Linked DNA regions of Homo sapiens: region 1 is linked to region 2. The links come from fine-mapping of genetic effects on gene expression. A gene starts in region 2. The other region holds a variant in brackets. All regions are shown on one strand. Distances are between the middles of the regions.

Region 1 (4,246 bases), 150 kb before region 2:
AGTTAATAATATTGTATTTACTTGAAATTTGTTAAGAGAGTTGAACTGAAGTGTTCTCACTACACACACAAACAAGGTAACTACATGAGGTGATGGGCATGTTAATTAGCTTGACTGTGGTAATCATTTCACAATGTATAATACAGTTGATCCTTGAACAACATGAGGGTTAGGGGCATCGAACCCTGCATACTGTAAAAAATCCATGTATAACTTTGGAATCACAAAAAACTTAGCTGCTAATAGCCTACTGTTGACTGGAAGCCTTATCAATAACAAACAGTTGACTAACACATATTTTATATGTTATATGTTATTTACTGTATTCTTACAATCAAGTAAGCTACAGAAAAGAAAATGTTATTAAGAAAATCATAAGGAAGAGAAAATATATTTACCATTCACTAAGTGGAAGTTGATCATCATAAAGATCTTCATCCCCATGGTCTTCACATTGAACAGGGCTGAAGAGGAGGAAGAGGAGGGGTTGGTCTAGCTGTCTCAGGAGTGGCAGAGGTGGAAGAAAATCCATGTATAATGGACCTGCACAGTTCAAACTTGTGTTGTTCAAGGGTCAACTGTATATCAAAGCATCACGTTGTACACCTTAAATTTGGGAGTTCAGTCAGGGTGGTGGGAAAAATTATAGAAGAAAAGTTATGAAGATAGTTATAGGAAATAGACACAAACCTTCTTGGAAGGCTGGGGGGGTTGCATAGCTTCAGTAAAAAGTTCAGCTGAAGTCAGCCTAATCCTCTTACCTTGAGTTAATAGTTTAAAGTAGGTACAAAGGAATGTAAGGGAGTTTATCTAAATAGCTTGTTTACTCATGTGGCCCTAAGCCCAACCTTTTATCATCTGTGAGTGCATGATTGCTCTCTACTCGAGGGGTTGGCAGTGTTAATTACCTTCTAGCGGTGTTTACTCGAGACCTTTGTAATTTAATCAGTACTAAATAAATGCGAACTTCCCCGGCTTATCGAGGCAGATGCTGCAGACTCAGGCAGCAGAGCCCCTTAGCCAGACTGACAGGCAAAGTATCTGTGTCAGTGTACGTCTTTCATCCGTCATTGGGTCAGGGTCAGCGGGATGGACATGGCACTTAAATATAAAAAAATTTTATTTGTAACTCATACTTTAATAAAGCTCGAAGAAAAAATAAAGAGGAAAAATGGAGCATATTCATAGGAGTGCTAATCAGCATGGCTTTCTAGCAGCAGTTGTGGAAACTGGCAGATGTTGGAATGATACCTTCGAGGACTAAGGGAGTATTTCTAACATTCTACATTCAAACTGTCATCAAATGTGAGGTAGAAAAAGGTTTCAAACATGCAAGATCTTAGAAATTTTTACTCCCATGTACCCTTTCTTAGGATGCTAGCAGAGGGTGTACTATACCAAAGTGAGGGAGTAAACTAAAAAAAGGGGAATTCTTCTTGTCTGAGATTGACAGATATGCATAGGCCTAGTAAGCAGCCAGTCAGTAGTTTGGAGTACAGGAGTTGTCTCCAAAAAAAAAAAAAAAAAAATAGAAAGTAAGAGATGATTTGATACGTTTGTCCACATGGAGAGATGTTTTATACTTCTGTCAGAGTCAAGAATGAATTTATAATAGGCATATAGAAAATTTTTCAAAAGAAAAAATGGGGCCATTAATTACTTTAGGAAAAACAAAAACTTACAGGAGAAAGGAAATGTAATCATATTACTCTGTAGAGTTTATCTGTGAATATTTTCTTGGTCATAATAATATAAACACTAGATTTTGATTTAGTGAAAAACTGTGACATAGTTATAATAGCAGAGATTTATATAGTATTTGCTGTGTTCTAGACACTGTTGAAAATGCTTTACATATATTAACTCATTTAATTCTTATGTTAACCCTGTAAAACAAGTACTGTCATTATCCTCATTTTACATGTAAGAAAACAGAGGCATAGAAGTTAAATGACTTGTTCAAGGTCACATTGCTAGCATGGGTTAGAGCCAGGATTCAACCTAAGGCAGTGTGACTGCAGAGTCCATGCTCTTTAACCACTATGTTATACTTCTGAAGAGAGAAGTATGTTTATGTGAATTGATAGGAAGCGGGGAGGCTGGGATGGTGGTGGTGGTGTGGGTAATGTAAGAAATCCAAGTCCTCATCTTCCTTAGTGATACTCC[A/G]ATAAATCTACCATTGGAAAATTTAAAACAAATAGCAGTAGAAGCATGTTATTAATAAATATGAGGGCAAATAGAAATTAAACTAAAAGAGTTTAAAGTGGGAATTTGATCTTAGAGATTGAAATAATTAGAATGGGCTGGGCACGGTGGTTCATGCCTGTAATCCCAGCACTTTGTGAGGCCGAGGTGGGAGGATCACTTGAACCCAGGAGTTCGAGAACAGCCTGGGCAACATGGTGGGACCCTGTCTCTGCAAAATATAAGAAAGATTAGCCGGGCATGGTGGTGTGTGCCTGTAATTTCATCCCAGCTAATCTGGGAGGATCACTTGAGCCCAGGATGTCGAGGGTGCAGTGAGCCATGTTTGTGCCACTGCACTCCAGCCTGGGCGACAGAATGAGACGCTGTTTTCCAAAAACAAGCAAAAAAAAAACAAAAAAACAAAAAAAAGGAGAAGTAGAATTGAGGATTATGTCTTGTCAGCTTTGTAATTATTTTTAAATTTAAAAACTGTGTACATGAAGTACTATGATAAAAAGTTAAAATTTACAAGAGAGTGATTTACCAGCACTTAATTTGGTAATTAAGATAAATTTTTGTTTAGTTTGGACGTATAATAGAATACTACCTCACATTTTAATTTTAGCACATTTTAGTTGATAGTATTTAATATTAATAATTTATAATTAATAGAAAAATCAATGATATTTACAACATTTAATTGGCAATATATTTATATTCTAATAGCTCAAAAGTTTTAATTTTCCTTTTAAATGAAATTTTTCAGTGGTCAAGTCAGACCTAGTATCTGTTAGAATTATCTAAGAAACATTCTTCCTTTGGACCTGGAATGATAATTGCTTTTTAATGTTGTTGTCTTACTGTTTTCTTTGCTGATTTTTTTGCATGTGAGGTAAGCTTATGTGAGCCCATAAAATGTTACATTTTTTATTAGAATTTTGAGAAATATTTATTTGATGTCACTTAGTGACTGTAATTAACCTTGATAAAGCTGACTTACAGTTTTCTTACCTCTCATTTTCTATTGTTTTTATACAGAGTATCTTTGCTCACATAGTATTTTATTCCTCATTATTCATTTTCTCTATGGCCAACGAAAGTAATTTCTTAGGATATTATTCTAGTTGAATTGACCAGTGTTTTCTTTTATTATTTCAGTCTCACCAGCCTAATATCGTACCTTTCAAAAAATTCATTTTTCCTATATTTATATTTTTTATGTTAGCCTTCTCCAGGTTTTATGCCAAACATCTTAGTGGTTCTGATGAGATTACTTTAAAGAATCACATAGATTATTTGTTCTTTTCTTACCATTCCAATGAATATATATTTTTCATTTTTTCAAATAAAGGCCACTTTTATGAGTTGTAAACTTCATATTGTTTAATAGTTTGTACATTCTGCTTTTGACAAGAAAACTCTAGTGAAATATAGAAAAATTAACTTTTTTCAATAAGAACAGAGATGGCAATAGAATTTTAGTTGGTATCAGTGTTGTCAGATTTTTCCACCTGGTGTCAGAAGTACAAATTATTTAAATATGCAAAGTATCAATCAAGATTGTGATGTCTCAATGTAATTTGAGACTATTGAATGGTTTAAAATGATAGATGTCATTTATATTTGGAACTATATAATTAAATCTTTATTTTTTATTGACAGATATGTTTAAAGGGTAAGGTGCACATATTTAAGTACTTAAATATTCAAGCATGTTGCAGAATGGATAAGAAACCAGATTCCCTGGATCTTCCATCATTGAGTAAACGAATGCCCTCACAGCCTCTCACAGACAGGTAATGTAACATTCTTACAGTTTCATTTGATGATTGCTGTCTTCTCTTTTTATGAAATATACTTATTAATCTTGAGTGTTCCGAATATATTTAGGCTGATTGGTCCAGCACTAAAATAAATAATTGGCTGAAGCTACATATCACCATCATAGAATGAAGTTCTAGGATACTAGAATATTTTTGACATTTTCTCAATCATTAAAGTTTTAGTAGTAAAAATGTAAATGTTTGACATTATATTACGGAAACACTAATTTCTCAGC
Region 2 (4,246 bases):
TTTTGTGGGTTTATCCATAAGTGATGCTAGAAGCTAGTTATCCCATTTTCCACCTTTGCTTGGGTATATTGATCAGTCTGATCCATGAAATGCTATTTGATAGCCTGAGTCAGATTTCATAGCCTATAAATGGAATAGAAGCAAATGATTTTAAACTCTTTACTTAGCATTTATGCTGTACATGACATAATGCTACGAAATCTTAAAGGACAGATCGATAGGGGAGAGAGAATTTTGTTAGAATCTCTCTGAGAGCATTGTAAGGGCAGCCTGATTGCCCTTAGTCCTTAAAGGTAATATGGAAGGTTTTCTCTTTGTCAGACCTATTGCCCTGATCCCAGTAGTAACCAGTGTGTTCATCTTAATCTCTGAGGGTAGCTCTGTGGAAGATCCATAACCTTCTGTTAGCCAAATCTACCTAGTACTTACAGATGCATTAGTGGGCAGCCATTGGCTGGCAAGTAAAGAGAGAGGAATTGGGGAGAAAGAGAGATTTGTTGGGCCTCAGTGAGAGAAATGACATTCTCTCCTGATTTTATGAGGCGCAGAATTTTTAAAATAACATGGTGTTGATTCAGCTTGGTTTGCTAATTAAAGGAAGATTTAAACACTGGGGTTCCAGAGGAAAAGCGTTCATAATCCTGAGTCATGCCTGTGGGACCCAGCAGAATGGGGTGGAAGTGCACAGGACTGGGCATCATGAGATCTCTGTTCTACTTCCAGCTTTGTTACTAATTTGCTGTGTAATCTTGGGTGGGGCAAGTCTGAGTTTTACTGCCCAATTTATAAAAGAGAATTTGACTAGCCTTGTCTGTAATATACATACTGGTTCTAAAAATTTGATCCTAAGATTCTATAAAGTAGCCATTGAGGCTTACCAAAGTTACAATATTACAGATGGATCAGGTAGGGGGAAGAGGGTGGGGTGGAAGAGAGGGTCTGTCCTATTGAATTAATCTATGCACAAGAAAAGAAGGGCAGTCCCTTCTTTTCTTTTGAGTGACTTTTAATCCTTTACTTTATGTGAAATTGTTGGTTCCAGAATATAGATTCGAAGAGAAGTGTATGGAATTGGGAGTAGTAGTTTTTCCTGAAAAGCAAAGTATTTTTAATTGAGTAGCTATTTGAAGGCATGAATCCTTTAAATTTTGATCATATCCGTCAAGAACCAATATCCAAGAACAGAAAGATGACTAAATTGTATTCTATGGCAATGAAATGCTGTTTTAGTTTAAGAAAGAGATGAAAAGTTCAGATTTGCCCTTTAGAAAGGTCACTCTTGCTGTATATGGTGTGGAAAATGGATCAGAGGCAGGAAAGACTGAATAAGGAGATCCCTGCTAAGATCCTCCATTTAGGAAGTGGTAGTGGTAATGGAGAGATTAGATGGGAGAGGAGTTGAGGAAGACTCCCAGGTTTCTGGTTTGGGCAACTGGAAGGATGGCGATGCCATTTACTAATAAAGGAAACACAGGAAAAAGTGGAACAATAATGAGAGTAGATGGAAATAAAAAATTTTAATTAAAAGAAGTAATTAAAAGAAAAAAGGAGCAAAGAAGAAAGTCAATCGTCCAGCAGGGGGCGAAAGAGCTAAATAAACACTTTTTTTAAACTAAAAAAAGAAATATTTATGAGGAAACAGAGCAAAGTTTTGAACTCTCTGAGGCTTCGGTTTAGGTTCTGAGCTTTCTCAGTGGTCAAATAACTTTCTATTTTATTTTATTTTATTTTATTTATTTATTTAGAGACAGTCTCGCTCTATTGCCCAGGCTGGAGTGCAATGGTGGGATCTTGGCTCACTGCAATCTCCGCCTCCCGGGTTCAAGCCATTCTCCTGCCTCGGCCTTCCGAATAGCTGGGATTACAGGCGCCCGCCACCATGCCTGGCTAATTGTGCATTTTTAGTAGAGAAAGGATTTCACCATGTTGGCCAGGCTGTCTCAAACTCCTGACTTCAGGTGATCCACCCGCCTCAGCCTCCGAAAGTGCTGGGATTACAGGCATGAGCCACCATGCCCGGCCGAAATAACTTTCAAATACTTTTTTCTTTTTCTTTTTTCTTTTTTTCCCCTCAGAAAAGAGTATTTGACTGTGTTTTATGTGTTGCTAGGGGAGACGGTTGCTATGGAGATGGATGATATCATAACTCCATTGTGAACCAGTAAGAACACTCTCGTGAGTCTAACGGTCTTCCGGATGAAGGCTATTTGAAGTCGCCATAACCTGGTCAGAAGTGTGCCTGTCGGCGGGGAGGTGAGGAGCTACAAGGGTTTTTGCTTAGCTTTGTTTTTATTCTTGTAAGCAGGATGAGACTAGAATCCTTTCTTTCCAATTATATTGGTTCCTAACTTGATTATTTCTGTTTCCATGGTCTGAGGTGGACACAGTTTTCCCAGTTCTTGGTAGAGAAGCACACAGAGAGCTTTCCAAAGTATTTTTAATCACGTTTAGTTTGATTATTTGATGTAAGATAAAGTTAAAATGTTATATTTTTCCTTCATAGAGAGGCAATATCAAGGTTTTAAATCTCGGAGAAATGGCTTTCGTTTGCTTGGCTATCGGATGCTTATATACCTTTCTGATAAGCACAACATTTGGCTGTACTTCATCTTCAGACACCGAGATAAAAGGTAAATGGATTTTAATGGAATAGTTTTTAAATTAGGAAAAGTAAAATTAAATGGATTTTAATGGAAAATTAACTGTCTTTTTGACCTGCCTTATGGAAGTGCATAACTAACTAGTAGATGAATTGTTATTGAAACTATTTCAGGAAGTTCATGAAAAAAAGCTATGTTCTTACTAGTCACTTTCTTGTATAAGGTAACTGATGTTGACACACATTTTGTGCGATAAATGCCAAATTAAAAACACTCTCCATACCTTTTTGTATAGTCTTTTTTAACAGATTAAGTATCTGAAACCTCATTGCCTGGTACTAAACTAACTGGAACAGTTCCTTAATTACTATCCTTAGCTACTATCCTTAGCTTTTATGACAATTAGATACATTAAAAAGGTACAGAAATTTAACGTAAAATTTAAAAATAATTAGAATTATTTAATTTTTCAATTATATTATATTATTTAATATAATGTTAATGTTTTATTATTAATTAATTAAAATTATTTATAGTATATTATTATATTATATATTATATTATAATTAATATAATTAAATACATATATTTATATTATAGTGATATGTTAGTTATTATTTGTTATTATTTGTTGTTCTTATTTGTTATTGTTATTGTTAGACAGATTTTTGTAATAAAATGTTCCCATCTTAGACCAAATTCTGGCGTACATGAGCACAGAGATAAAGCCACATTGAATTTTTTGCTTCTCTAAAAATTAATACCTAGTGAGGCAAAGTCACATTTTGCATATGTGATTTCTCAAAGAAGGAACAACTATATAGCAGTAATCTAGATTTTTTTAACAGCCTTACTGAGATATAATTTACACAAAACTAACTCTTTATACAAAACTATATTCTTTAAAACTATACATGTATAGTAAAACTCTTTACTATACGTTGGTTTTTAGTATATTCACAAAGTTGTGCAACAATCACCACTATCAAAGTCCAGAATAGTTGCATCACCCGTAAAACAGCCCCTAAACCCATTAAGCAGTCACCCTGCATTGTTTCTCCCTCCAGCCCCTACCAACCACGAATCTACTTTCTCTCTCTATGAATTTGTCTATTTTGAAATTTCATAGAAATGGAACTATGTCAATATGTGGTCTTTTGTGTCTGGCTTCTTTCAGTTAGTATAATGTTCTCAAGGTTCATCCATGTTGTAGCATGAATCAGTACTTCATGTCTTTTTATGGCTGAATAATATTTGATTGTATGCATGTAGCACATTTTGTTTATCTGTTAATCAATTGGTGCACATTTGGAAGCCATCTAGATTTAGCAATATTTGTCATAAAATACAGAAAAAATAAAAGTGTTTTATTGATTTATTTCAGTTAACCCTCCTCAGGATTTTGAGATAGTGGATCCCGGATACTTAGGTTATCTCTATTTGCAATGGCAACCCCCACTGTCTCTGGATCATTTTAAGGAATGCACAGTGGAATATGAACTAAAATACCGAAACATTGGTAGTGAAACATGGAAGGTAAGTAAAGCATGCATTTGCCGTATCAGAGTGATCATCAGGTGTTACTTTGTGATTCCTGACTTTAGTGTCCGCTCCAATTCCCATATCTCAATAGTTCTAATTAGGAT

Which allele goes with the higher level. Alleles are on the strand shown, and positions count from the first base shown. SD is a standard deviation of normalised expression in the study named.
With allele A in place of G in region 1, the expression in thyroid of the gene that starts at base 2,190 in region 2 is higher (large effect, 1.0 SD a copy in GTEx).

Evidence for each region. PIP is the estimated chance that this variant, and not a neighbour inherited with it, causes the effect. A credible set is the group of variants that fine-mapping cannot tell apart.
Region 1: its variant is the best candidate, but not a certain one, in a credible set for the expression of IL13RA2 in thyroid (GTEx, PIP 0.71).

Annotation. Positions count from the first base shown.
Region 1 is chrX:115,170,036-115,174,281 of GRCh38, reverse strand. LRCH2 (leucine rich repeats and calponin homology domain containing 2) reads left to right here. Exons shown (of 21, transcript NM_020871.4): 6 at 3,850-3,983. Among named protein-coding and RNA genes, the nearest start is that of RBMXL3, 17 kb to the left of the region's middle. The variant A/G (reference allele first, on the strand shown) is at 2,167.
Region 2 is chrX:115,015,560-115,019,805 of GRCh38, reverse strand. IL13RA2 (interleukin 13 receptor subunit alpha 2) reads left to right here and starts at 2,190. Exons shown (of 10, transcript NM_000640.3): 1 at 2,190-2,253; 2 at 2,504-2,630; 3 at 3,985-4,136. The coding sequence starts at 2,537.